Linked DNA regions of Homo sapiens: region 1 is linked to region 2. The links come from fine-mapping of genetic effects on gene expression. Tissue or cell type: whole blood. Region 2 holds a variant in brackets; the other region holds the start of a gene. All regions are shown on one strand. Distances are from middle to middle.

Region 1 (4,000 bases), 170 kb before region 2:
ATACAAACCTCTCTTGTTGAAATTCTGATCTGCAGTAAGTACATTTTACAATAGGATGTGCAATCCGACATTCCTGTAATAAGACAATACATTAGTCAGTATCTTTCTGAAAGTCCCAAATCTCACTTTTCTGGTAGAAAACTGTTTACCCAACCTAGTGAAAGTCTAAAACATTTATAAAACCTGGCCCCAACGTAAAGAACTGGATGCTTTATCATATAAGTGGCCAATCACAATATAATTCCTTAGGGAAGGCACAGGTGTCTTTGTCTTTAGTAGACGTGGGGGTATATTACAGACAAATTAAGAAAGCTGTCAGGGCCTATTTCAAGGATTGGTTAAATGTGAAACTACTTATTATTTTGCACCGTTGCTCACAGACAGCATCCAGGCTTTAATGGGATGGGAGGAGCTCCAAATCAGAGCATTCTGTTCCCAAACCAGTCGCTTCGCTTTCCTGGACAGGGAAGAAGGATGCCATCAGCTTTGCGGCTTCGGGTTCCTAGCAAGAAAGTGCAAAAACCGTCCCCTGCCTCCTGGTGGAAGAAGAGGACAGACCAGGCAGAAAACCGAGATGAAAACATCTCCACCCCTGGGTCTCTGCGGCATAGACAGGTGGCTGCCTCACTCAACCCCACTCCTGAGACCCCCAGACGCTGACGGGGCCCGGCACCCTCCTGGGCCGCCTGGAAAAGGGCACGATTCTGCCTCCCTTTCAGGGTCCGTTCCCAGCTAATGTTCAAGCCCCCAGAAAAAGGGGTCCCCGAGTGGGGAGGCGAGGGCTCCAGACTCCCAAACCCCTGAGGCGCCGGCGAAGAGGGGCTGCAGTGCAGCGGCTACCCGGCCCCCTCCGGCTACGGCCGAGGACACCCATCCCGCCCGCCTCCCGGAGCCCACGGACCTTGCAGAGCTGCTGGCCCTGGGAGAGCTCCTCGAAAGGATAACGCTGGGTACACTTGGTGCAGGCGTACAGGGCCGAGGCCGCCATCCTGCTCCTCAGTCTCCTCCTCCGCCGCCGCCCGCTCCGAGGCGGGGCCCTACGGAGAACCCGAGAGCCGCCGCCGCCCGGGCCGCGGGCTCCTCCTCCTCCCCCTCCCCCTGCCTCGCGCCCACCAGGGCCTCGCCGCGAGAGCCCAGGGCCCCGCGGACGACGCCACCGTCTCCCTCCGCCTCCACTTCCGCCCCAGCCCACCCAGTGACGCCGTGCCAGCCGCTCCCGCTTAGGCCCCGATAGCGGCGGAGGGAGACGAAGCGGGTAGGGGGTTGCTGTTTAGCTGTGCGGCCGTGGATCCGCTTCCTTCTCGGCCTCCCTTTCCCATCCCTGATTGGCTGCGAAGGCTATCGCGTCATTCGATGGCTCCTCCCAACTCCCAACTTCCGCGACGCAGGAAGCGCCCACAAAGGGAGGATGTCGCCGGCCAATGACATCCCGGAGCTCTCAGCGCGCGAAATCCGCTTTGAACCTGCCCCGCCCAAAGGTCTGCGGTCGCGGCTATTTCTAACAGCCAGTCCCAGGTTTGGCTGAGAGCGCCCCAATCCAATTGAGCAAATGTTCGCGAAAGGCTCGTTCTCTGCCGCAACTTTTTTTCCCTTGCTTTCTATTGGACTAAATCGTTAAGTCCCTCCTAATCCTATTTGTTATTGGCCAAAAGGTAAATACTTCACCTGGAGAGGCGTCCCCGAGGCAAATTCACGCTCTCTCCGGCGTTTAATCCGAGGGAACTCGTGGAGTGCTTTAACTTCGCCTTCGCTTTTGTTTTATCTCCATTACTCCCTTCAGTTGCCACTGGCGACACCACTACTCGCCCACGCTTCTTACTGGAGGAGGCCCGACCCTCCGTAGAATCCCCGCAGAGCCGGCCTGTAACCCCGGCGTTGTCTGCCCCAGCGGGCCCCGTTACGCGCTACCTTGTGACGTCACCAGGGAAGAGGCGGATTCTCTCCTACTACAGAAAGACGTCTGCTGTTTTGATTGGCTAGGAAAGACGTCCGTTAGGACGTGTTGCCCTTTCTGTGTAAGCTGTGAGCGTAGGCGGCCCTGAGGGGGTGTGTTGCAGGGGTTTCCAAGCCCAGCACCAGCACCCTTGCCCTTTTCCATCAGGGGTTCAGCCTAGGGTCCCCGCTGGTGGGCGGCTCCCGAGTCTTGGAGAAGAGCACGAGAACCTAGACCGCCCCCGAAGTGCGGAGACCCCCTGGGCAGGCTGAAAGATGGCGGCGGCGTCTGTCTCTGCGGCTTCTGGTTCTCACTTGTCGGTAAGAAGCAGTTGGCGCGAGTGGGCCCCACGTCGGCCCTAAGCGCCTCTTTGAGTTTCCTCACGTTTCAGGGCGCTGTCAGTCCAGCTTCTGACGCAATTCTGGAGGTCGGCGGGAATGCCTAGATTGCCCCGCGCTCCCCAAGCTTCCATTCACTGTGGCTGTGTCGAAGCTGCACCCTCTGGCTCCCAGTGAAACTGGGCTGGCCGCCCCTGTTCCCCAGCCCTTATTCACCTTTTGGCGTAGCAACCAACCCCGGTTGCCTAACATTCCCAAGGGCCGGCTGGGATAACTGCCCACTCCCTGGCCTGCAAAAATGTAGCTCTTTTGGTCACGTGGGTTCAGCGGCCCCTCTAGGAAACTCGCCAGATCAGGTGAGGCGCGCCAGTGTGTTTAAGAGACGTTGCAGAATAGTAGTCCGCCGTCTCTCGAGCGCTTACTAGTCGTTGCTTATGCTGTTTCCTATCCCTGCAGTGCCTCCCACTCCCATCCACATTAACTTCGTTGTGTGATGCTCGTAGCCAGAACGCGCGCTTCCTGTCACCTAGAATTACTGGAACTTCAATGTGGAAATGCCCTTTTGGAGAGGCGACAGGGGGAATTGATTTTAAATATTGTTTTCGCCTCATCAAATGTCACCATCCAGTTTAGTTACTGGTATTCACTGGTATTTCTCAAATTGGAGTGTCGAATGCTTAGGTTTTTGAAAACCGCGGCATTGGAAAGCTTTGATAGGAAGTAAATGTTGGAGCTCTTATTTCTCCAGTTAGCAAATGTTCGATGCCTGGTATACTGTTAGGGTCCAAATGAACAGAATAGAAACCCTGCTTTGAAGGAGAAAAACACTGAAGAGAAACTACACGTAATTAGTGATTACTGCGCAGTATAGTTTAGGAAGTGCTACCGTAGTAGAATAATCTAGAGGGGAGTGATTAACAGTGCTTGGGTAGGCTAGAGAAGGTTTCCTAGAAGGGAAGATGGAGCTAGTTGCGTGTCGAAGGAATTGTGATTGCTTGTCCCAAGAGTAGAGAAAGGAGAAAAAGGCAGTGCGGGAATTTTGGAGTATGTGCTAGAACAGTAGGTGCTTTTAGGAAACTTGAGATAGTTCGGAATGAGAAGAAGTAATACGGAGGTAGAGCTGGATGAGGTGAATTGGAAACGTAGGTAAAAACGTGAAAAAAGAAGGATGGTGAGGGAAGGAACTAGAAGAGTATCAGGGTAAAGTTATTTTCTAGGATCTAGGGGGAAAGAGTTGGAAACGCTAAGAAAGCCTGGTCACCTTGGAGAAGTCAGTTTCAGCTTTTGGAGACTTGTTAGAATTTGTAATAATGGGACTAGAAGTATTACAGTGTTTCAGCCGAATGGGAATTAGAAGTTTGCAGAGAGGTCTGGGGAAGTTAAGGAGAAGTAAGGAAAGCAGCAATTTAAGGTTATTCAGGATTAGGTCAGTAAAAGAAAAAAGTAAAAAACTATTGGAAGTGTCAGCAGATGGATGAGATTTTATAGGAGATGTGATTAAACTTGGGAGAAGAGGGCTTTTCACGGCTCTCAAAAGTTAAGCACTTGGAGACCGAACAAGGAATACTCTTACAAATGTTGAATTGAGTCTGGGTGCGTGGCTCATGCCTGTAATACCAGCTACTAGTGAGGCTGAGGCGGGAGGATCACTGAGGCTGAAGTGAGGTATGATAGTGCCACTGCTCTCCAGCCTGGGCGACAGAGCGACCCTGTCTCCATAAAATAAAAT
Region 2 (4,264 bases):
TCTATCACATTTAATTTTAATATTTGCAACTATACTTTAGTGTAGTTATAGTGCCCTCTCTATGAATATACTTTCTGGATTAGAGAAAGGACGCAGAATATTTTTCCATAACAAAGTCATTTGGGTTGAATTGTCAAAATCTAATCCTCATAACACCACTCTCTTTTGATTTTGTAAAGTGAAAAAAGACATCTACTTTAACACACTCAGAGCAGGATTAAGACATCTTTCAAACCTTCTGATCACTCCAAAGATTAACAAAAATGCCTTGCTAACTTTAACCAAAAGACCAGATGTAGAATAATCTTCTATTTTTCCAGCAAGTATTGAAAGGCAGGATTATACAAATGGAGACACACAAATATAAATGGGGGTGCTCTCTCTCTGTATCTCTCTCACTATTCATATATACTTTTTCTTTAGTGCTTTGAAAACTGACATGTTGCTTTTAGGTTAGTATATGAATCAGTAATGAGTAAAAACTACTTTGAAGATTACTTAATGTTATACTCATTCATATTGGAGATAATTTTCCTTAATATTTGTTGCATGTTTTTCAAGAATAAGTGTTAAAAATCAGTTTTAATTTTTAAACATACATAACCTCTGTGCCATTCTGTCTTCACTTCCCATTAGTTTCCAAACAAAGCCCTACACAATCTTTAGTTGATTTCCTTACTGTTTAGTAGAGTAGATGTCCTCTTATGTGATGTGAATAGAAGTGGTAGTTGGTTAGTTAACTTAAAAAAGAAAAATAAAATTGGGTTAAACAGAATTATGTATGTATGTTAAACAGAATTATCTATGTATACATTATATACATACATATATAAATTATATTTTTAAACTTAAAACATAATTTTAAAATTTATTTTTAATGTAAAGTTTATAATGTGCCAGCATTCACAAATCTTTTTGATGTTAGGGCCAAGGCCTTTCTTTTTGATATGGTTTTATTCTCTGAAGTCTTTCTTGCATGAATCACATACATAATGCATTTTCTGATTTCAATTTCTGGTTTCATTAAAATGGAATGGAAACTTAAAGACACAAGGCAATTTGAGTGCAAAATCCTCATACTTAACGATCAATTAGTTGATCAACTGCAATGCTCCTTCCGTTTTTCACATTCTTAATTTGACAGCATTTAAAAATTTTTTATTGTAAAAGATATTAAATACACAACATATAAATAAAGTCTCTTCTGTGATGCTGCCTATGAAGGTGGCAGCCATCTCCTATTCACCATCATAGCCACACTCAGACCCCTTGTGGAGCCCAAGATTGTCATAAAGAGGATCAAGAAGTTCATCATCGGGACAGATCGATATGTCAAAATTAAGTGTAACTGGTGGAAACCCAGAGGTATTAACAACAGGGTATGCAGAGGATTCAAGGGCCAGACTTGATGTCCAACACTGGTTATAGGAGCAACAAGAAGACAAAGCACATGCTGCCCATGGCTTCTGGAAGTTCCTAGTATCCAGTGTCAAGGAGCTGGATGTGCTGCTGATGTGCAACAAATCTTACTGGGCTGAGAATGCTCACAATGTTTTCTCAAAGAAGAACCACACAGCCATCATGGAAAGAGCAGCCTAGCTCATCATCAGAGTCACCAATCCTAATGCCAGGCTGCACAGCAAAGAAAATGAATAGACAGGTTGTGTGCACGTTTTACTTGTGTTTAAAGAAAACCATAAAAACTGCCAAGAAAGGTATGAATAAATTAAGGAATAAGATAACAAATAATGGCATACACAACAACCAGGTTAAGAAACAGAACACTACCAGTACCTTAAAAGCTCTCTTTGTTCCCTAGACGCAACCATTAGGCTGGCTTTTATGAGAATTAGTCTCTTGCTTTTCTTTGCGGTTTTGCCAATCTGTATTATAAACCAAGAAGTATCTGAGACAGGTCTCAATCAATTTAGAGTTTTATTTTGCCAAGGTTAAGGACTATGACCTGTGACACAACCTCAAGAGGTCCTTCCTGACAATATGTGCCAAAGGTGGCTGGGTTGCAGCTTGGTTTTATACATTTTAGGGATACAGAAGTTACAGGCAAAGACATAAATCAATGCATGGAAAGTATACTTGGCTCAGCCTGGAAAAGTGGGATATCTTGAAGCAGTGGGGGAGTTGGGTGGCGGGGGGATTTCCAAGTCATTGGTGCATTCAAAGATTTCCTAATTAGCAATTGGT[C/T]GAAAGAGTTTAGCTCTGCCTAAAGAGTTGAAGTCAGCATAAAGAAATATTGAGTTAAGATAAAAGGAGAGGTTGTGGAAGCCAAGGTTCTTATCATGTAGATAGAGCCTTGAGGTAGCAGGCTTCAGAGAAAATGTCTCTTATCAGGCCTTAAATGGTGTCAGACTCTGCATAAAAGACATAGTAAGGGAAGGAGATTCTCTATAGAATGCACATTTCCCCCACAAGAGACAGCTTTGCAGGGCTATTTCAATATATGTCAAAGAAGTATATTTGGCAGTAAAGTGACTTCCCTCAAGGCCTGCTATTTGTCATGTGATGCTATACCAGAGTCAGGTTGGAATCTGGTATCTTATTGCTATCAAGAGCCTGCTTCGTCAGTCTCAAGATCTCTGTTTTAATGTTAATGCTGGTTAGATGTTTCTAAACTCCAAAGGGAGGAGTATACAGTGAGACATGTCTGACTCCTTCCCATTATGGCCTGAACTTGTTTGTCAGGTTTCTTTGGGATCCCGTTGGCCAAAAAGGGGTCCATTCAGTCGATTGGGGAGCTTCGAATTTTATTTTTGGTTTGCAGTATGTATTCTTAAATAACATCTTGTTTAGTTTGGCCTTTTAAAATATTTTTTAAAAATAGAATCAAGGTGTAGGGTTTTTTGTGTGTGACTTGCTTCTTTCATTCAACATTATGTTGATGTATTTAGCTCATTCCCTTTTCTTGTAGCATTACATTCCATTTTATGACAATACCTCAATTTACCTCTTCTAACATTGATGGACATTTAGATTTTGTTTTAGTTTAATTCCCCCCACAGTAGATACTAAGACAAAGATCTGCATGCAGGGAGTTTATCTGGAAGGTGATACCTGGAAGCACTGTGAAGGCGTAAGGAAGTGAGACCTGGAAAGAATAAGAACCAATAAAGCATTTATTTATAAGCAGATTACCACAATGAGCAACCAGGCTTATTCCCACTGGGAACTCTGAAAGATAGTGTGAAACACACATGAGACTTATCCACTAAAGGAGAAGGGATCTGGGCTATTTATCCACCATCCTAAATTGGTTGAAAGCCCCCTTTGGGACAGAAATTCTCTTCTACTTAAGGCTTGTCCCAAGTATTCTGCTAAAGACGATGCCCTCAGGCAATCGTCAAGAAATATGTAGGAGGCAATCATCTTGACAGCAGCTGTCTAGGATAGATTAAAGCGATATGGATGGAGCCCTTTTGAGATCTGCTACTGCAACCCGTTGCACCCTTCAGATCCACTCAACCCTCACACTATGTTCACTCTATGTTGTCACTGATTCTTCAAATTTTTAAGGTACAGGTACCTGAAAAAGAGAAGAATAAAAGGCTTAAATGTAGATGGAGTAAGTACACTCCCTACTGCTGTAGTTGGTCCTGAGGCCATCAGTTGATATTCATCATCTCCCACCTTTACCACCCATGGTAGACTTCCCTTGGTCAGAATATCTCTTGGATGCTTCTCTTGGTAGGTGACCCAGTCCTTTATCTTTGAGGGAATTGAGTTTCTGGTTACCTTGCCCTTTTCAAGACTAGGTAGTTGCAATTGCCCATGTGCTATTATCACTGGGCATGGAATCACCAAGAGGTACCCTGGGGAATTCTGAGTTAGAAAAAGTTGCTGACTTTATACTATAGATGCTTCCTGTCAAAGAGCATGGTAATTATCTATTTGGTCTTTAAAAATGTTCTTTATTAGAATTTGATAATTTTATGCATGTAAGGCTCAATACACACACATATACATGTATATCCACACATATCCTAGATTTTGATGTTACTGTGAATATGATTTTCAAGTTATGCTTTTTAATAGTTGGTGGCATATAAAAACTGCTTTTGTGTGTTGATTTAGTTTCCAGAAAATTGGCTAGATTCTCTGGGGTTTTCTAAATGAATAACCACATATATTTATGATTATCCAATTATGATTGTTTTGTTTCTGTACAATTTTAATGTATTTTTTTTCTTTTTTTGTTTTCTTGTACTGAGTAGGACTTCCACCAGAAGATCAGGTAGGAATGGATGATAGT

What was found. PIP is the estimated chance that this variant, and not a neighbour inherited with it, causes the effect.
Region 1: it holds the start of CEP57, and the variant in region 2 is fine-mapped to the expression of CEP57 in whole blood (TOPMed, PIP above 0.99).

What each region holds. Positions count from the first base shown.
Region 1 is chr11:95,788,491-95,792,490 of GRCh38, forward strand. It overlaps CEP57 (centrosomal protein 57), which reads left to right and starts at 2,008. Exons shown (of 11, transcript NM_014679.5): 1 at 2,008-2,253. The coding sequence starts at 2,209. It overlaps FAM76B (family with sequence similarity 76 member B), which reads right to left and starts at 1,292. Exons shown (of 10, transcript NM_144664.5): 1 at 902-1,292; 2 at 9-73. The coding sequence starts at 988. RefSeq lists a silencer at 900-1,319 and enhancers at 1,820-2,289, 2,253-2,916.
Region 2 is chr11:95,961,969-95,966,232 of GRCh38, forward strand. It overlaps the pseudogene RPL32P25. Among named protein-coding and RNA genes, the nearest start is that of MTMR2, 40 kb to the left of the region's middle. The variant C/T (reference allele first, on the strand shown) is at 2,203.